Linked DNA regions of Homo sapiens. The protein of the gene in region 1 interacts with the protein of each later gene in a pairwise test. Each region holds a gene or a part of one and is shown in the gene's direction. Other genes may lie near its edges. The genes, in order: SEMA4G, TNFRSF10D, CYCS and COQ8A.

Region 1 (6,899 bases):
AAAGAAGAAGCTGTACAATGCAGAAGCAGGGCTTGAGATCACCTCCAACCTGCCAAGCAGATAGAGATCTGGGTATGCCAACTTGGGAGGCAGAGGTTGAAACCTCATAGGAGGAACTTTGGAGCTCATAGAAGGCCTTGGCATTGTCAGAGGCCTTGAGTTCCAAAACCATGCCAGTATTTCTGCCTTCTGACAGGCTGGCTAGAAAGAGACTAAATGGGAGCATTTTTCTCTGACAGTGGGGCGGAGGGATGAGGGGATGACAGCCCAGGAAGAAGCAGAGACATTGCCGTAAGTACTTACTAGAGGGCAGGCAGCACAGCTTTATGCAAGTTAAGGGCCTTGACCTTGCCCCAAGGCCTGACCTCAGATCCCAGATTCATCATACTAGCCTTTTGATCTTTGCCAAATTACTTAAACTCACTGTTTCCTCATCTGTTGAATAATGGTGTCTACCTCAGGGTTTGTGAGGACTAAGCGAGCTAATGCATGAAAAGTGCCTAGTACAGTGCCTGGCATATAGCAAGAACTCAGCAAATGCTTGCTGCTCTAACGAGGCGTTTCTCTGATGACAGATTTGATCTTAAGCAGACACCTCAGGGTGTACTGACATCTGAGCAAACCATATCTCCAAAAATTATAGTTGTAAGTGTGCCCTATTTCTTTGGATACCGGGAGCTGGAGCTTCTCTGTCCAGCTATCTCTGCTGATTTTTTTTAATTAAAATTTTCACTTTTTAAAAGCCAGCATGCTAAAGCTGAGAAATTGGTGATGGGTGGTGGTTTTCCAGCATTTGTGGGAATGTCCTGACACTCCCTTTCCCTTACTAACCATTCCCTAGGCTGGAGTCAAGAGAGGGCAAACCAGAAGGCCCAGCTTTGGGTCTGACTCCAAGACGACTGGCTGGGAGGAAAACTAAACAGGCTTCTGAGGCACAGTGGAATAGTGAGACTTCCGCATTGTTGCACTGGTGACAGCCCCTACAGAAGAAGCACCTCAGCTGTATATATAGCCAAAATAAAGACCACACCACCTAAAGGGAAAGTGCTGGGCAAACCAGAGATGGAGATGGCAAAGCAGGAACAGAAATGCTGCCACATTGAACAGTAAGCAGGACAACTTGACTAGGCCAGAGTTCTCTTGCTTCAGGGAACCTGCTCAAGTTTCAGGAATTCATACCCACCCCCTTCACCTAGGATCCCTGCTACAGTAAGTAACTGTTCTGTGCAAAGTGGAGCTAAACTCTGGTGTGTAAGTGGCTGACAATCACTGCTGAAGACGGCCAGCACTACCCTCAGCCACTTTCTTACAGCAAAGTTGGGGAAAATAGACTAGCAAAAACAAAACTCATACTTTTCTGTGTGTGTGAAGTTCTCCAGAAGGTTTCCAAATGGAATCCTCTCACAGCCACCCTGCGAAGCAGCCAGGGTAGTGACCTTATGGATGAGTGACAGCCTGTTCAAAGAATGACCTGCCTGTGTCCCAGGATGCAGATTTATGGCTGGGTTAGGGTTAATTTCTTTAGTTGATTTCCAGTTTTCTTTTCCACTGTCTGTCAGTATTCCCCCGTTCTTATTTTACCAGCTGGATTTGCAGAGAGACATACTGTCAATCAAAAGGGCTTCCTATGGGCAGCTCCATTAATTGCTTTTACATCTGATACTCTCATTAGGTTTAGAGATTTTACTGGGAGGCTAGCAGAAGGAAATGGATTGTGGTCTGCTATCAAAAGTACTGAAGTAACTGCCCAGTGATCATTGAAATCACACATTTTGCTCATTTAACAATGTCTGAGTTTGCCATCAGCACCTCAGAGGAGCAAAGCTTGGTTCATAAAGTGAAGTTGAGTGATACTGAGCCTACCACACTGGCCTACTCGCCACCTCCAGAGCTATCTGAAGTCAGCACTGCAGGTTCTGTGAACATTTGGGAAGCTGTGCCTCTTAGCCCCCTGGGCCCCTACAGTTTAATTGCTCTCCTATCTGCTACTGAAGGACCAGCAGTCTTCCTACCCTGCCTCCACTGTTACCACCAACCCACTTTTTGATAAGGACTGCAGATTTATCTTTCTTAGCCCTGCCTTGACTGGTCTTCCCACCTCAGACGTCCTTACTCAGTCCATCATCTCTTTCAGGATTTTCTTCTGTGGTCTTTTTCAAACTACTAGCTGACTTTTCCCTTTTATTTCCCACTAGGAACCCCTCCCCGCCCCCCCCCCCCCCCCAGCCATTTCATCAAATCAAACTCACTGCCCTCTTTCATGCCCCTTCCTTAGTTCCCCAACACAAGCCTGTGCATAAGCTTGAACATTTCTACCTTTGCCAATGGTATTTCCCCTTCTGGCTTACCCTGCTTCCTCCTTCTCAGACTTTTCCAGTCTTGATTGTCCTCTCCATAAACACAAGAATGAACTTCAAGGCAAGTTACTTAATGTCTTAGAGCCTGTTTCCCCATCCATAAAATGGGGCTATAAATTCCTCAGGATGGGATGAGGGTACAAATAAAAAATGAAGCAGGATATTCTTTGTAAAAGTGTGTGTACATTTTTTATTGTGTTTCTCCCCAGCTACCTTCCCTCTCCCCGCCACACACATCCTATTTGCAGAGTGTTGGGGGAGGTGGAACTGTGATGTGGGCCCTGCTGTCTAGCAGTCTGCAGTCACACACAGCCATCCAAACTACGAGATTGTATATGATTCAGTGCCAAACTGTGAGCTTTGGGGAATCCAGAAAGAAGGATGAAGCCTTTCCCAAGTTTCCTTTAGTTAAATGTGCCACTTGAATCCTGTTCTGACTCCTAGGCACATGCAAGAGTCAATCACATATGTTCCTGTGGCCTTTATCATTTTGGTCCATCTCTTGAGCCCACATGAATACTGTCATGGATGGAGGAGGAAGGACCAGGCTGGGTCAGGGCCTGAATGCAGGTTTTGTTTGGACTATAGGGGCTAAGTTCACTTTAATAGGCTGTGACCTATTAAAGGAGGCAGGAACCAAGTTTGCACAGAAGGACCATCCTAGTTGAGTTAAAGGAGTTGGGGAGTTGATTGTGAGGGGTTTCCTAGATTGCTGCTGGGTAAGGTGATTGAATCTGGGAAGGATAGGGTACTTGATTGCCTAGAAGGGTGCACTCTAAGTTCTGGATAAGAATGGTGCCCAAGATGAGCTGGAGGGGAAGGCAAGTGTTTGAATGACCCAGTCCCTGAGGTGAGCCTAGGTTAGGGTTAAGATTTGGTGAGTGAACAGGTGCAAACGCTTGTGGCTTATTTATCCAGAAAAAGCATTTTCTGTGTGCCTTTCAGGTCAGGCTGTTACTTTATCCCCTTCAGGCCTGACCCCATCTCCCCCACGCATAGCTCAAGCTGAACAGCCCCTGAAGCTGGGAATCAAGCCCCTACCTTGTGTTCAGAGCTTCCCTAACGTCCAGTCGCCACCTAGGGTAGCCTTCCCTCCACACCCTAGGCCGAGAGCAGAAGCGGGTGGCAGGAGCACAGGGAGTGAGGTCCAGGTTAGAGGACAGGCCAGAAGGCCCTCCGAGAGGGTCCCCCAACCCCGCAACGCCAGGACAGGTTTGCACGTCCCCAGCAGTAGGCAAGTCAGGGGGGTCCTAGGGTTACAGCGGAGGAGAGGACGGGCTATAAGCATGTGGAGGGTGCACGGGGTGGCGAGGCCACCACCAGGGGGCGATTTCAGGGCCGCAGCGCCTAGAGGTGGGGGGTCGCCCGATGGCCGAAGGCTGTGTGTGAGCCTCGCCCTCAAACCGCCTCTATTGTGCTAGAGTAGGGGGCGCAAAGAAGAGAGTGGCGACCTTCCCCTCACCCCACCCAGTCGGCCCCGCCTTTCAGGACCCCGCCCCACCCCCGGCTCCGCCTCCACCACCCCCCCCCCGCCCCGCCTCCAGCCGCGGCCCCTTCCTCTCGCAGCTGGTGCTGTGGGGCCGCGGAGCCGCGCGTCGCTGTCTCTATGGCCCCGGATCCGAGCGCAAAGGTGAGCAAGGCGAGGAGTGCGGGCGGCGCCCTGGCGTGAGCCTGGGGCTGCGGGCCGGGGGTCGGGCAAGGCCTCCCCCACGTCCATTCTACCCTCCAAGCTGGGCCAGGCCTTTCTCACCACCAAGTCCCCCGGTCCTGCATGACGGCTCTAGAGGGGCGCGGGCCAGGCCTCGGGCTGCGCGGGGTGCAAACCGGCCACCACGGAGTCGGGGACCAGCGCGGGGAGGGGGCCGCGTGGCGAACAGTGTTCCCCAGGATCTGGGTCACGTCTCCCGGCGTCCGGCGGGATCGAAGGAGAGCTTGTCCTCGAGCTGCAGCAGTAGAGACTGAGGTTAGACCTGACGAAGGGAGAGGACCGCGGACTGTCCAGGATGTTGGAGGGAGGGGGTCCCGGGGGAGGGGCTCTCTCAAGCCAGGAGAGACCGCCATCCTACTAGGCAGAGGGAAATACCGCCTACACTAGGCAGGTGGACATCTGGGATGAAGGTCGAGAGCCTGCTGATCCTCCATTGATCCTGTTTGAAGGGTCTCTCCTCCCCAGTTCCCTCCACCCCAAGATCTAATAGAGGAAAGGTGATCAGAGTTCAGGGGGCTGGCCCTGGGGAAGAACCCGAACTGTGGAACTTGGGGTGGAGTGTGGGGCGTGGACTGGAGACCTTAAACCCGTACTTCGCCACTGAAGGGAGGGGTGATATGCTCCGCCCCGCCCACTTAGCCCCGCCCCCTCCCACAGGTTAAGTGGGGGCTGAGAGCTCCAGCCCGTCTCCCACCTTTAGAACCGCAATATACATAGGGGTGGAGGAGTACTAAATTATGCGTTCCATTCCATCTTTGCTGAAGCTAGGGGCCTCCTCCTGCCTGAGTTACTTTCCCATTCCCTCCCTTGTAGAGCGGCCTTGACTCATGCACCCATCCCATCTGCCCATCCAAGGTCAGAAGCCTCCCCCATCACCACACACACACACACACACAACCCCCTCACCACCCCCACACACAAACACACACTTGAAATTGGGCCTTAGAATTGGGACTTTCAGGAACAGAGGCAGGGTTCTGCTCTGCATCTCACCCCAGTGGACACTGGCAGCCTCCAAGCCTATGGCAAAAACTGGACCCCTGTATGCATGTGTGCTTGTCTCTGCATGGATGTAGTTGTGTGTTCAAGAACTGCGTGTGAGCACACATGTACTTGACCCTTCTGTGAACATGATTGCCTGGCCCACTATATCAATGGGTTTGTGTGCATGTCCCTACACATACATGTGTATGTATAGGACCCTCCTGTTGAATAGGTGCACAGTCCTTGACACAAACCCACATGTGTGGGTTTATCTCTCCTCAATGTCTGAGGCTGTGTGACCTGCTGAATGGATGGGCATGTAAATTCAACGTCACATGTGAATATGTATGATTACCTGTGGCTGTGGCCCTCTGTATGAGCATATGTGTGCACAAAACTCCCTGTGAGTATATGTGTGAATGACCCCTGTGAATCCACGTGTTCACAGTCCTCCTTGTGAACATGTGTGTGTGTGTGTGTGTGCACCCATGTGCATGTATATCACCTTCCTAATAGTCACCCATGTGACTCTTAAACTATAAGTGTGACATGCACCACACTGAGTGGCTCCTCTAACCTGGGGCATGTTCCTCCTAGCCATAGTGCTCCCCACACACATGCCTTTTGCACTGAGCAAATAGGAGGTCCCAAAGGTAAACAGGTGTGCCTCCACAGGGAGGGGTGGGGCATGGCCGGCTTGCCTGAAGCTTCCTGCTGTCCCAGATCCCAAACAGGGAGCCTATGCCCTTTCAGGGTCAGGGAATCCTCTTCTCTCCCTTTCATATTTGACTCTACCCCTCAGGGCTCTGCCCCTGCAGTGCTGACCTTTACCTCTTGAATAATTGCTCCTGTTATCCCTCTGGCCAGTTCCTGATTCCTCCCCTCTTTCCAAGGCCAGATAGTTAATATTTGACCTGGGAGAGGAGGCACCAGTGGCACCCTCTGGCCCTGCCTGTGGGTGGCTGATGAGATGGAATGTATTAGGTCTCTCCACACCTCACCCAGCCCAGGAACTCTTCAAGGAACCCCTTGGTGATTAGGAGGCCTGTTACAGGGGTTGGGAGAGGCCTGCCACCCACCCCCATCCCATCCCCAACTGGTTGGCTTGAGGGAGGGTCCAAGATGTGTCGGGAGGGGCCAAGGGCTCAGGGATCCCATCATTTACCTTCTTCACGTTGCTTATGTCTCAACTGGCCTTGCACACTACAGCCTTCTGCACAGACATTATACCTGTGCAACCAGGGGGATCCTAGGTACCCACCCCAATGCCTGTGAATGCCTACTTGCAGATAGGGACACGTGTGGATGCCTAGCCAGAGGGTGCAATACAGACTGGCGTGGGCAGAGATGTGCACCCCCTTGGAGAGGAATACCAAGAAGTTATAATTAAAGAGAAATTCCAGAGGGAGCTCTCAGGCCAGGGAAAAGAAAAAACAAAGGGAAAGCAGGACAAAATAAACAAAGGTCCATTAAACCTCTCTGGTTAGGCCCTCCTGCATAAGGCACCCCCGCAGGCAGCAGGGGCAGCTGCTGACCGAGTTGCATCTCATTGTTGGGAGAAGCAGGCATTCTCTCCAAGAACCCCAGCTCCTTTGACTTGAGGGCCTAGTGGAGCTTCTGACTTGGCCAGAAGAGGGTCATGACCTTGGGTTTCGGGTTGTGGGCATCTAGGGTCTTGTAAGGAAGGTAAGTTCCACCCCAGCCTCCTGCATCAGAGCAAAGCGATAGACAGAATGATTGTGAGTCGATCCTGGCGTGGGCGTTCTGTGGATGCTGGGCCTCCTTCTTTCAGTGCCCCCTGAAGTCTGGGTAACGCCATCCATCTTCCACCCACATACAGATCAAAGGGC
Region 2 (7,368 bases), on another chromosome or scaffold:
ATTACTCTAAGGAGGATATCTCTCTGCCCATTGCTAAACATTATGCACTGAACAGCCTGTTTCTCGGTCCAAGGAAGTTCGGTTTAGTGGTCCAAACTAGAATAATACCTTCTTTCAGTTCTTTTATATTAATAGCACTCTGGGCATTTGCAGCCTCCACCAGGTAAGGAAAAGACAATCCACAGTCAGTTTCTGTTGCTGTCGAGACTCACCTGTACCCCCCAGGGCACTGCCCTCAGTCTCACTTTCCAAGTATGTTGAGGGCCTCCTCATCAGGGAATCTGCCTCATAGCTATAGGCAGTCTCTGTCTCTCCCGCTGCTAGACAGAACAGCTCTTATTGGTGTCATGTGCCTGAGAGAGAGCAAGAGGAATGTGTTTCGATTCAGCCCATCTCTGCGTCACTGTGGTTCCCCCATATCCACTTCTTTTGCTTCGTGGCCTCTGGTGACCACCTCAAGGGAGTACACGGGGGTATCTCTTGCTGATTACAGTCACTTTCTAAACCTGAGGGTGGGTTCTACTGACCAGCATGGGCGTGTCTTACTTTAATGCACTCCTCAAGCTCCCCTAGAGATTTCCATAGGGTCGGGCCTCATATGGACATCCCTACACTAGGTCAGTTTCCCCTTACTCTTGGAAACAATGGAAAATGTAGAGACGAATATCCAAATTTAATACCCTTTATTTGGAAAGTAAGAATTGCAATTCTTGGCATACACAAAGACCAAGTTGTCTTTGGTACGTCCAAAGAACAAAGAGAAGTTTGGAAGTTTTTTTTTTTTTTTGAGACGGAGTCTGGCTCCGTTGCCCAGGCTGGAGTGCAGTGGCGTGATCTCCGCTCACTGCAAGCTCCGCCCCCTGGGTTCATGCCATGCTCCTGCCTCAGCCTCCCGAGTAGCTGGGACTACAGGTGCCCGCCACCACGCCCGGCTAATTATTTTGTATTTTTAGTAGAGACCGGGTTTCACAGTGTTTGCCAGGATGGTCTCGATCTCCTGACCTCGTGATCCGCCTGCCTCGGCCTCCCAAAGTGCTGGGATTACAGGTGTGAGCCACCGCACACGGCCAGATGTTTTTTTTTAAATGAGAAATACTAAGTATTTTTTTTTGCAGAAAGTTCATTGGCGCTGTAAAATTTGAAGAAGTGGCATGCTCTGACTGGTGAGTGACTGCAGTGGGTCAGGCTGGTCTTAGAGCAGCAGCTGGTTGTGTCAATAGATATAAGACAGAACTATTAATAGTTTCACGTTACAGCTGCCAGACTTACAGAGAATTGCAGTTTGGGGGTAATACAGTGATTTTTCTTCCCCATGGCCTCTTGACTCTGTTTTAGTTGGGTGTGACAAGAATGACCCAATTTGTGCGATCAACTTTCACATTCTCCTTCCCAACTCTATGACCGGGACATTGACGACTGTCCATGAGCCAGAAAAAAACTCAAGTACAGGGGCTTTTGCTGCTGTTCAAATCTTCCATAAGGCTAGGAAAATAGCATGCAATCCAACCCACCTAGCCAATTTGCCTTTGCCTTCTTCCATCAGAGGGGTGGCCTTCCAAGTAGGATGTTGTCCATTCATCTAGGAATGACTGTCTACAAACTAAGTAGCTCTTGGTCAGTAAGTAAAGAGCTGTGTATAGGGCAATGTCCAAGTGACCACAGAATCCAGCAGCTCCTCACCCAGTTCCAGACTCAGTCTGAGGGGAACAGAGGCTCCCTGCTCATGAGTGTCTCCTCTTTGCCTTCCTCAGGCACCAGGATCCCATATCAACCATTTCCATTTTTTAGGCTGAGTGAGGTGGCTCACGCCTGTAATCCCAGCACTTTGGGAGGCTGAGGCGGGTGGATCACGAGGTCAAGAGATCGAGACCATCCGGGCCAACATGAAGATCCCTCGTCTCTACTGAAAATTCAAAAATTAGCCAGGCGTGGTGGCATGTGCCTGTAATCCCACCTACTCGGGAGGCTGAGGCAGGAGAATCGCTTGAACCCAGGAGGCAGAGGTTGCAGTGAGCCTGGATCGTGCTGCACTCCAACCTGGCAACAGAGTGAGACTCCATCTCAAAAAAAAAAAATCCATTTTGTAATAGAACTCTTCTGGGACTGGCCTCCCCGTTAGAGCTTTTCCAAGATTCCTGAAGACATCATCAGTTTTTCAGGTTTCAAGATTATTTTATGTCCTTCAGTGACAGGGGAGACTTCAGTTAGTGTTCCATCTCAAGCTAGTAAGTGCCTCTTAAGTGGAAACTTGACTCTAAAGGCCCAGTTCCTTGGAGGTGCTCACAGCCTTTTGCCATTAGCCCTAGTCAGTGCTCCACACAGGGCACAGAGAATGCGTTGTTACCTGCAGTCTGGTTTCTGGTCTATACTGTGTGGTCCACCCTCCAGGGCCAAGGGAGCTAAGGTGCTCTAAGGACTTTCCTGCAGGCCCTGGTGGCTCTGTGTTAATGCTGTCAGTCTTCCTGAAGTCCCTGACCTTTCACCTCCTGCCTGGATCTGCACCCCGCACACATTCCTGACCCCACACATTTCTCATTGCCTGGGTCCTGGCACACATTTCTGACCCTAGCTCAGTGTCTGGGGCCTGGCACACATTTCCGACCCTAGCTCAGTGCCTGGGGCCTGACACACATTTCTGACCCTAGCTCAGTGCCTGGGGCCTGACACACATTTCTGAGTCTAGCTCAGTGCCTGGAACCTGGCACACATTTCTGACCCTAGCTCAGTGCCTGGAACCTGGCGCACATTTCTGACCCTAGCTCAGTGCCTGGGGCCTGACACACATTTCTGACCCTAGCTCAGTGCCTGGGGCCTGACACACATTTCTGAGTCTAGCTCAGTGCCTGAAACCTGGCGCACATTTCTGACCCTAGCTCAGTGCCTGGGACCTGGCACACATTTTTTTTTCTTTTTTTTTTTTTTCACAGAGTCTCGCTCTGTCACCCAGACTGGAGTGCAGTGGCACGAATCTCGGCTCACTGCAACCTCCATTTCCTGGGTTCAAGCAATTCTCCTGCCTCAGCTTCCTGAGTAGCTGGGATTACAAGTGCCCGCCACCACGCCCAGCTAATTTTTGTATTTTTAGTAGAGATGGGGTTTAACTATGTTGGCCAGGCTGGTCTCGAACTCCTGACCTCTTGATTCGCCCACCTCAGCCTCTCAAAGTGCTGGGACTACAAGCGTGAGCAACCGCGCCCGGCCCTGGCTCACATTTCTGACCCTAGGTCATTGTCTGGGCCCTGGAAGGTGCTCAGGGTGATCCATCGCTCAAATCCAAGCCTGTGGAGAGGATGACATTTCATTCCCAGGTTTCTCATGAGCCAAAAAACCTTCATTTCTATAGCGCTATCCTCTTCTATCTACCATGTGAGGGGTCAGGAGCCGACTCATCCCAAGGGTCTAGGAGTCCTGCCATTGACCTTACTGCTTAGGGTCACAAGCTGGCACCCTTCAAAACCACACATTGGGTCTGCCCTCACAGCGGCAGTGTGTTCAACTGGATGGGGAGGTAAGTAGCCCAAGGTCAGACAGTTGGACCTGGGTAGACAATAGACTTGGGGACAGACTTTGGAAGGCACTCCCCTGATTCCCCTGTCTCCATGGGGCCTCAATACTAGAGCCCTCAAGGTTGGTCAGGGAGTGTTTGTGCTTTGACCATGCAAAGGGTGCCAGGTTGTGGCTAGGGATGCCCCCGGCGTTCCTCTCCCTCCTACCTACTCCTCAGCCTCTGCAGGTGCCTGTCATGGCCTCTGTGTCCTTCATTCTGTCCACTCATGTGTTCACTGGGCCCCTCCTTGGTGCCAGGCACCCGCTACTGAGGGATACCAAGCCCCTGCCAGAGAAGCTTGGAGCTGGGTCACAGCAGCAAGGAGGCTGGAGACATCAGTGGCATCAGTGCACTGGTCAGTGAGGCCGCTGTGGGAGGAGGGAGTGGGAGCAGAAGCTAAGAGTGGACTGAAGTCCTGAGGCCAGGAAGTAGTTCAGGGTTTAAGAAGAGGAGAGACAGGCGGCCCGGGGAGGGAGCAGGCTCAGGATGGGCCTCCAGTGCCTCCTCTGGAGCTCACTACCCAGACTACAGCAGCGCAGCGGGCAGCGCCTCAGCTCCTTCCCCTTCTGCTGCCTACAGCCTGGACAGGACCCGGAATCAAACCGCAGGCCCTGGGTCACCGCTGCCGGAAAGAGCCAGTTCCTGTCCGTCCATGCACCCACCCACACAACCTGGGCCCTCCTGGAGGTGCTGGGGGAGACCCAGCCTGAGTGCCTGGAAGTGACTGCGGGAAGGGAGTACAACTGACCACGCCTTTTTTCCGGGGTATAAAAGCGGAGGAGCACGTTCTATTCTGGCAGTGTAGCTGCGAGAACCTTTGCACGCGCACAAACTACGGGGACGATTTCTGATTGATTTTTGGCGCTTTCGATCCACCCTCCTCCCTTCTCATGGGACTTTGGGGACAAAGCGTCCCGACCGCCTCGAGCGCTCGAGCAGGGCGCTATCCAGGAGCCAGGACAGCGTCGGGAACCAGACCATGGCTCCTGGACCCCAAGATCCTTAAGTTCGTCGTCTTCATCGTCGCGGTTCTGCTGCCGGTGAGTCTCCGCCGCGGTCCCTGGCTGGGGAAGAGCGCACCTGGCGCCGGGAGTGGGCAGGGAGAGAGGGGGACACGGTGGGGATGCTTGGCCCGGGTCGCCTGCGGCCGGGCATGTCTGGGCAGGACGAACCCGCCGTCGGAGTCAGGGGAAGAGTGGGGTGCCCGGGCTGGGCAGGAGCGACCGGGCCGCGAGGGAGCAGAGCGCGCGCTCCCCCTGGCTGTCCCGTGCGGCGAGGACCGCACTGAGCTGCCCCAGAGGAAGTTCCAGAATCAGCGGAGGGAGGGAGTCAAGATGGAAACCCCGGAGTGAACCTCAGGAAGCCACAGAGCGGTTGCCTCTTTCGTTCGTTCGTTCGTTCGTTCGTTCATAACGTTAACCCAGGCCGGTCGCGGTGGCTCACGCCTGTAATCCCAGCACGTTGGGAGGCCGAGGCGGGCGGATCACCTGAGGTCAGGAGTTGGAGACCAGCCTAGCCACCATGGTGAAACCCCGTCTCTACTAAAAATACAAAAATTAGCCGGACGTGATGGCGGTCGCCTGTAATCCCAGCTACTCGGGAGGCTGAGGCAGAAGGAGAATCACTTGAATCCGGGAGGCGGAGGTTGCAGTGAGCCGAGATCGCGCCATCGCACTCCAGCCTGGTCAACAAGAGCGAGACTCCGTCTCAAAAAAAAAAAAAAAAAAAAAAAAAAAGTTAGCCAGGCGTGGCAGCCTGCGCCTGTAGTCCCAGCTACTCAGGAGGCTGAGGCAGGAGAACTGCTTGAACCCGGGAGGCAGAGGTTGCAGTGAGCCGAGATTGCACCACTGCACTCCAGCCTGGGCGACAGAGCGAGACTCTGCCTTAACAAAAACAGACAAACAAACAAACAAAATTAACCCTATGTTTACACTGTTACACGTGTTTCTTGGAGATCAGTTTAACAAACAGCCTGTGAAAAAGCTTTCCAACGCTGTTTTTTGTAACTTTCATTTCCTATAGAACCCTGAAAGTGGCAGGAAGCGGTTAACCAAGGTGCTTGCAGTCAGTGTCTTCCACTGCCACCCGTGTGTCCCCTCTGTATCCCATAGGCAGGACCGCGGGATGGCCCCTTCCTTAGGCATAAAAGATGTAAAGTTCTCGTTGTGAGTTGGGTTTGGAAACTGAGATTGGTAGTGGGGTGCACAAGAAGGACATAAAAATAAGATGTGCAGACTGCCAGGACTTTTTCTGAGTGACTGACGTTTCTGCCAACAGTGCTTTCTAAGGTTTCTTACGTAATACCAAAAAACAAAACGGGGAGGATAAAACAAGATTACATGAACCATGAGAGTCTCCATGTTTTCTTTCAACGAAGTAATACTAAATTCAGAACAGCAGTGACATTTTCACCTCTCAAAAATTACACAACTGACTTCTACAATAGTTTATAGTGGGTGGACCTACCTGAGGCAGCTAGAAGAATGGCTGTGTCAGGACAGTGGCCCTGAAGAGAGAATGTGTGGATGACCTGTGTAGACAAGACCAGCAACCTGAATTTCACAGTTTTGGGAATGTGAACTCTATGCGTCCCAAAGGAGGCTTTGATCCCTCCATCAATCTTGCCTTATTAAATGCATTTCAATGCACAGTTGCTTTTTAAAATTTTGGAGCTAGCACAAATCACATTAGATGTTTTATGGCAGTACATTCAGATTGATTTTCTTTTAAACAAGGGTATTGTATTTTACTACATGGGTAAGCCACAGGTTAATTCACTGTTGCCATCTAGAGGCAGCTGGTTATATCCCATCCCGATGGGATATAACCCAAAGCAAATTTGCCTTTGCTAATTCCAACAGCATTGTACTAAATACCCTTGTATGTATCGTGTGTCCACATGTCCATGCGCACCAGCTTATTGGGCAACTCCTTAGAAGTAGAATTTTACTTCTACTTCCGTGGGATAAATCATTTCAGAAGTTTCTTTAGATGTTTACGAATTTTCTTCCAAAAGACCATTGAACTCAGCTTACACTCACACCTAGTTCACACATGTGCCTGTATCCCTACACCCTTGTTACACTTAGCTTTCATTCGTTGCTAGTCTAGGAAGTAAAAGGTGATTCATCACATTGTTATGTACTTTCATTCCTTAATGGTATTAGGAATTTTCAAGGATACGGGAGTTTTGGTAGTGGGAGTAGATGACCGGGGGATCCAGATGAGACAGCAGGGGAGGGTGGCAGGGAAGACTGAATTCCCAGCTGTGAACTTGGAGAACCGTGGTCAGCTGGGGCCAGTCCCTGCCACCTGCCACGCCTGTAAATGGAGATAAGGTCTCCATCTTCAGGCTGTCAGGAGGACATCAGATGAGCCTGGAGCTGAGCTCAGTTCCTGACCCCAGGTCCTGGCTCTGTCAGCGTTGGACTGTTCCAATCTGTGTGACAGAGGCTTCCGCCCCGCCCTTCTCTTTATCAAAGTAGGAATCGAAAAGATCCAACGGCCCAGAATCTCGGACTCTGAGGCTCTCAAGGACTCCTGAGATTGGAGGCTGGGAACAGCTGGGCCCTGCTGTGCTTCCCCTCCAGCTCTGTGACACTGGTGTGGCCCCAGCTCCTGCCTGTAAAGTGAAGAGGAGATAAAAATCTTCAGCAGCCCTGTGTAAACCTCAGAGGGCTGTGTTAGCAGGTGTGGGAGGATGAACCACATCCTCAGGGCTGGTGTCAGTCACTCCGGACTGGATCCCCAGGGCACATGTCCTCCACCCAGCAGAGGCTGCACCTGTTCCTACTTGCACCTCCATACCAGGCTCCCTGGCC
Region 3 (3,592 bases), on another chromosome or scaffold:
GTCTCAAACTCCTGAGCTCAAGCAATCCGTCCACTTGCCTTGGCTCCCCAAAGTGCTGGGATTACAGGCGTGAGCCACCAGGCCCTGCCTGGTTTTCAAATTCAGAAATCTTATTATTTAACCCAGAAGTAATCAGCCCAGTAGTAACTTAGGTTTAATTTTTTTTCAGGTTTAAAATTTTTCTCATTTATTTTTTCTGAGACGGAGTTTCGCCCTTTTCGCCCAGGCTGAGTACAGTGGTGCAATCTCACTGCAACCTCCGCCTTCCAGTTGCAAGTGATTCTCCTGCCTCAGCCTCCTGAGTAGCTGGGATTACAGGCACCCGCCACCACGCCTGGCTAATTTTTGTATTTTTAGTGGAGATGGTGTTTCACCATGTTGGCCAGACTGGTCTTGGACTCCTGACCTCGTGATCCACCCACCTTGGCCTCCCAAAGTTCTAGGATTACAGGTGTGAGCCACCACGTCCGGCCAATTTTTCTCATTTCTATGCCTCCTATATTAAGGTCTGTGTTGGCACAGATGAGTAACTGCCATGTTCTAGGTCAGTTATACCCAAGCACTTCTGGTGGTTTAAAATGTGATTCTGTAACTTTTTTATTTTTATTTTTTTGAGATAATTTCACTCTTGTTGCCCAGGCTGGAGTGCAATGGCGTGATCGCTGCTCACCGCAACCTCCGCCTTCCAGGTTCAAGCGATTCTCCTGACTCAGCCTCTCAAGTAGCTGGGATTACAAGCATGCGCCACCATGCCCAGCTTATTTTGTGTTTTTAGTAGAGACAGGGTTTCTCCATGCTGGACAGGCTGGTCTTGAACTCCCGACGTCAGGTGATCTACCTGCCTCGGCCTCCCAAAGTGCTGGGATTACAGGCGTGAGCCACCACGCCTGGCCAATTATGTAATTTTTTAAAAAGGACATTTCTATCAGGGATATATACCTTCAGAAATAAGGAAATAGGGGAAAAAAAGAGCACTATAAACCACATGTTTTCATTTCTAGTGCTTCGCTGTAAGTGGCTAGGTTGGTAGAATCAAAAACAAGGGCCAGATGTATTTAAGGGGTATTCAGATGCCACCTACATGCTTATTTTGTCTAGAACAGTGCTGTCTAATAGAACTTTCTGTGACGATGGATATTTTGTAGACTTTTGCTGTCCAGTGTGGTAGCCACTAACCACATGTGGCTGTTAAGCCCTTGAAATATAGCTAGTGTGACTAGAAAGTATTTTATTTTAAATTTACATAGGCACAAGTGGCTAGTGGCTACTGTATTGACATTCTGGGTCTAGGACTAGAACCAGTGGTCTGTAACAAAAGTACTTTCTCTTTACTCTATTAAATCTAGAATTAGCCGGGCATGGTCGCTCATGCCTGTAATCCCAGCACTTTGGGAGGCCAAGGCAGGCAGATCACTTGAGGTCAGGCGTTTGAGACCAGCCTGGTCAACATGGCGAAACCCTGTCTCTACAAAAAACATAAAAATTAGCCAGGTGTGGTGGTGGGCACCTGTAATCTCAGCTACTTGGGAGGCTGAGGCACAAGAATCACTTGAACTTGGGAGGTGGAGGTTGCAGTGAGCCAAGATTGTGCCACTGCACTCAAGCCTGGGTGACGAGTGAAACTGTCTCCAAAAAAAAAAAAAAATCTAGAATTCTTGGAAGTACATTATATTGCCCTTCAGAATAGATTCCAGTTCCTGTTGTGCTCACCTTTATAATTTTACCATAAGTTTTACCTATTCGTAAGTTGGCAGTTTTAGATAGATAACATTCTGGTGGTAGCTAGGGATTTACCTTTTGTCATCCTTTTCCTGCACTTCTCTTGAATTCCTTTATAGATGTACAGTTTTGCTTTAACCACTGAAGATTGCTGTAAATTATAAAGGGTGTGATAGAATCCACATGGCTGTCAAGAAGGAGATCTTACCAAGGACAGTTGACTGACTAGTCTCAGATTGTTTCATATCATTTATACTTGGGTAAGAGTAAACTAGATAACTGGGCGTCGTGGTGCACACCTGTAGTCCCAGCCACTCTGAGGCAGGAGGACTGCTTGTGCCCAGAAGTTCGAGGCTGCAGTGTAGCTGTGATTGTGCTACTGCACTCCAGCCTGGGCAACAGATAAAGGAAACTCCATCTCTTTTAAAAAAAAAAAAAGTGGTCTGGGTGCAGTAGGTCATGCCTGCAATCCCAGCACTTTGGGAGGCCAAGGCAGGCAGATCACCTGAGGTCAGGAGCTTGAGACCAGCCTGGCCAACATGGTGAAACCCCATCTCTACCAAAAATATAAAAACTAGCTGGGCGTGGTGGCGGCACCTGTAATTGCAGCTATTTGAGAGGCTGAGGCAGGAGAATCGCTTGAACCTGGGAGATGGGGGTTGCAGTGAGCCAAGACCGCCCCATCGCACTCCAGCCTGGGCAACAATAGTGAAACTCCGTCTCAAAAAGAAAAAAAGTTTCCTTAGAATGGAAAATATTCATTCATGAGCTCTTTTGGCAATCCGTCATCAGTATATTCTGAAAACCAATAAGATGTTGCCAAGTTGGGGGCGAGAGCTATGTAATGCAAGGCATATGCCTGATGAAGTATACAAATACACCTGACCAGAAACTTTGTCTCCCACATAAGTCTCTTCTAGGCACTGTCGGGGTACATACTGAGCTGCTGCTTTGGCTGTATTTTCTGTGCCTCAGAATAACCATTGTCCTGGTGTTCATATCCTTAGAGTTCAGTACAAAATGTTGGATATCCATTTAATAGGTTCCAGGTTATCTTAGTTGGAGTTTGGGGTATTTGAAAACGTCATGCCTTCAGGCTATCATTTCCCTCAGAAAGCTAAGTAAATTTACTGCATTCATTTCTCAAAGAGTAAAAGTGCAGGTTGTATGTGTCTATGAACATTTAAACATGTTAAAATGTTAAATTTAACATTTTAAATTTAAACATTTAAATATGTCTGTAACTTGAACAGTGTAGTTTCAGAAAGGACCACTGGGCTAGTGTAATGCAGAAAATGCTGGGTCTAGGATTAGGAGAAAATTGTGTTTAGTGTGTATCAATAAACAGCCCGTGGACCCAATCTGACCAGATGCCTGTTTTTGTAAAGAGAACTTTATTGGGCTTGGTGCAGTGGCTTATGCCTGTAATCCCAGCACTTTGGGAGGACAGGGCAGATGGATCACAAGGTCAGGAGTTTGAGACCAGCCTGACCAACATGGTGAAAGCCCGTCTCTACTAAAATACAAAAATTACCTAGGGGTGGGGGGCGGTGGGCACCTGAAATCCAGCTACTCGGAGGCTGAGGCAGGAGAATCGCTTCAACCTGAGAGGCAGAGGTTGCAGTGAGCCAAGATCACACCACTGCACTCCAGCTTGGGCAACAGAGCAAGACTCCGTCTCAAGAAAAAAAACTTTATTGGATCACAGTCACATTCGTTAGTGTATTGTTTAGGGCTGCTTTGGGCTACAACATTAGAGGTTAGTGGTTGTGACAAAGCCTAAAATATTTAGTGTGGCATTTTACAGAGTTTCTCAGTTCTGTGTTTAGAGCTTTGCTTTATCAATCTGATTAACACAACGTTGTATTTGTGG
Region 4 (2,798 bases), on another chromosome or scaffold:
CAGGGACAGGGAGACTGTGCGGGCGAAATCCATAGAGATGAAGTTCCTCACCGGCTACGAGGTCAAGGTGAGCAGGGTTGCGGGGGATCCCCTGGGCCTGCTGACCCAGGGCCCGGCTCCCTGTGTAAGAATGGATGAAAGCACAGGGGGCAGCTGCCCTCAAGGGGCCCCCAGAGCCCGGGCCTCCTTGGGCACGGTCTGAAAGCTGGGGCCCACCCCGGCCCATGCTGCCCTGCTGAGCGTGAGATTTTCCGAGTGGGCCAGTGAGTTGGGGACTTGTCGTGAAGCTCTTGTTTCTGCCTCTCACTCTTGCCCACTTAGGGCTTGGGGTTGGGCCTCGATTGAGCCAACGTGCAGAGCAAGTGGGAAGGGAAGCCCCAGCCCTCCCCTCATCGAGCCTCCCTGGGGGGAGTTGGAAGAAACCTTAGAAGCCTTTTAAATAAAGGGGAACGGTCTGTGCTGGTGCCGCCTGAAGCCACCCACAAAGTGGCATTTTCCGCTTGCTGCTTGACAGTGGGGAAGGAGTTAAAGAAATCCAGGTCAAGCCTTGGGTCTGCCGTCTCATAGGAGTGTCATTTGAGGCTTGTCAGTATCTCTGAGCCCCCCTTATCTCAGCTGTAAGCGCTCAGCGGGCAGCAGCTCTCTCCCGCCTCTTCCTTATGGCCACTCGCACTGACTCGATTCCTGGCCGCCCCGTCCCTCTGACCACCTTGGGCTGTCCCTGGCGGCAGCTCCTCTCCCCTGCTCTGCTGGCGGCGGCTTCCTTAGGTTGCTAGTTCCCGTGGGCAGACACACGGCTGCTGGGTGTGTCTTGGGTGGACTCTGGCAGGCTCAGACACGCATGGTGGGAGGCCCTGCCAGCTTAGGCCCACGGACTCTGTTCTTTTTGGCCAGAACAGTGTTTTGTTAAAACTCTGTATGAGTGCCACGAGGCGGGACGCATCCTCTGCACTCTGCCACAGGCCCCGCCACTCCCTTTTGTATCACATCAGCCCAGTCCATGTTACCCTCGTGTTCCCGGCCCCTGTGGGTTTGAGTTTATGCCCATTACCATGATGTAATCCAGTTTACAGCAGAGCTTTGAATGAGAACTCAGCGCCCCGGGCACTGTGGGAGGAACCCGGGCTGGTGGAGGGCTCTGGTGTCTCGCCGCCATTTATCCTTCCTCTCTTGCCCCAGGTCATGGAAGACGCCCACTTGGATGCCATCCTCATCCTGGGGGAGGCCTTCGCCTCTGATGAGCCTTTTGATTTTGGCACTCAGAGCACCACCGAGAAGATCCACAACCTGATTCCCGTCATGCTGAGGCACCGTCTCGTCCCCCCACCCGAGGAAACCTACTCCCTGCACAGGAAGATGGGGGGCTCCTTCCTCATCTGCTCCAAGCTGAAGGCCCGCTTCCCCTGCAAGGCCATGTTCGAGGAGGCCTACAGCAACTACTGCAAGAGGCAGGCCCAGCAGTAGGGCTGCGGGCCACGCCCAGGCCGGCTCCGCGGGAACTCTCTCCCTCAGACAGGCCAAAAACCAGTAGCGAGGTCGTGGTGATGCTCTTTTTAACTCCTTTGCCCAATAAGGGGGGTGGCTGCCTGGAGCCCCGTAGCCAGCGCTTTCCACGGTTTCTGTTGCTAAATGGTTGTAGGGTGAGAAGTGCAAGAATGAAGATGAAGCCCCACTGCTCGGTCAGTCTGCCTCCGTGTGTCCTCTGAAATAAGCAGATGAAGATGAAAGGGCAACTTTGTTTTCTTCTTTTTCCTGATGTGAATGTTAAGCAGAAGGGAGAGAGTCCTTACTCCCTTCCAATCTCTGTTCAGTGCAAAACCCAGAAACATGAACAGATACGATTGTGGGATTTTATCATCTGTGTAGTAGGTGTGTGTATGTGTTTCTAGAGTGAGATTTGTGTTTTCTGCCCTTTTCCTCTCCAGCCGATGGGCTGGAGCTGGGAGAGGTGCTGAGCTAACAGTGCCAACAAGTGCTCCTTAAGCCTGCGAGGCCCAGGCCTGTGGGGCTGGTTCTCACCTTTGACAGCTGAATGTTCCTAAAGAACTGCTGCCCCACAGTGAGGGTGGGAGCAGCGGAACAGGGAATGCCAGACACAGGCTCGCTGCTGCTGGAAGGCGGGGTGGGACTTCCTTCCTCTGTCCGGAGAGGCACAGGTGTCACCAGTTCCAGCCAAAGGCTCCTCACAGGCGCTGTGAATTTTTGTACAAGTCTTGTAATTATCGAATCAACAACTTGTTTCAATTTAATAAAAATGCTCATGGGAAGTGCTTTGGCGCGTGTACCCTCTTCTGTATTCTGGAGAATGACGACCCGTATCTTCTAGCTCGTGGTGGTGGTTCTTTTCTGACCTGACGGTCAGCAGGTTCAGTGTCACAGCCCATTTGCAAGGGTTGGGACTGGTTCAGCGTGAGGCCCTTGGCCCTGAACCTGGAAGGCTCAGCCCCGTTCCCTGTAAGAAGGGAGGTGGGAGGGGTGGAGAACAGGAGGAGAGGTTGCGGTGTCACTGCCCCAGCCCCCGGGAGGCTGTACCACACTGCTGAAGCTGCTGTACCTGGTGATGGTGGCAACTGGGAGGACAGTGACACCTGCCAGCACGGCTGATGCCAGGTCTGCATCACAGTGAGACGTCTCCTCTCTAGACATCAGCTGCAGTTGAGGACCACGTCCTGAAAAGTGGCTTTTCCTGGGGCCAGACTGATTCCTAGATAACAGGACACACTGGACACTGAGCTGGGGCCCTTTCTACGGACCTGTGAGCAGTTGAAAGTGCATCTGCAGAATGCACAGGCCCAAAA

What was found.
Region 2: the proteins of SEMA4G (region 1) and TNFRSF10D interact in binary tests that used the Homo sapiens proteins (3 or more experiments, as listed by UniProt).
Region 3: the proteins of SEMA4G (region 1) and CYCS interact in binary tests that used the Homo sapiens proteins (3 or more experiments, as listed by UniProt).
Region 4: the proteins of SEMA4G (region 1) and COQ8A interact in binary tests that used the Homo sapiens proteins (3 or more experiments, as listed by UniProt).

The regions. Positions count from the first base shown.
Region 1 is NC_000010.11:100,965,605-100,972,503, forward strand, and holds the start of SEMA4G (semaphorin-4G isoform 1 precursor), read left to right. Parts: upstream 1-3,899; 5' UTR 3,900-3,987; intron 3,988-4,087; exon of another isoform or gene 4,088-4,320; intron 4,321-6,899. UniProt on the Homo sapiens protein: Cell surface receptor for PLXNB2. May play a role in axon guidance.
Region 2 is NC_000008.11:23,161,005-23,168,372, reverse strand, and holds the start of TNFRSF10D (tumor necrosis factor receptor superfamily member 10D precursor), read left to right. Parts: upstream 1-4,345; 5' UTR 4,346-4,437; coding exon 4,438-4,587; intron 4,588-7,368. UniProt on the Homo sapiens protein: Receptor for the cytotoxic ligand TRAIL. Contains a truncated death domain and hence is not capable of inducing apoptosis but protects against TRAIL-mediated apoptosis. Reports are contradictory with regards to its ability to induce the NF-kappa-B pathway.
Region 3 is NC_000007.14:25,118,144-25,121,735, reverse strand, and holds the end of CYCS (cytochrome c), read left to right. Parts: 3' UTR 1-3,080; downstream 3,081-3,592. UniProt on the Homo sapiens protein: Electron carrier protein. The oxidized form of the cytochrome c heme group can accept an electron from the heme group of the cytochrome c1 subunit of cytochrome reductase.
Region 4 is NC_000001.11:226,985,274-226,988,071, forward strand, and holds the end of COQ8A (atypical kinase COQ8A, mitochondrial), read left to right. Parts: coding exon 1-67; intron 68-1,179; coding exon 1,180-1,464; 3' UTR 1,465-2,271; downstream 2,272-2,798. UniProt on the Homo sapiens protein: Atypical kinase involved in the biosynthesis of coenzyme Q, also named ubiquinone, an essential lipid-soluble electron transporter for aerobic cellular respiration.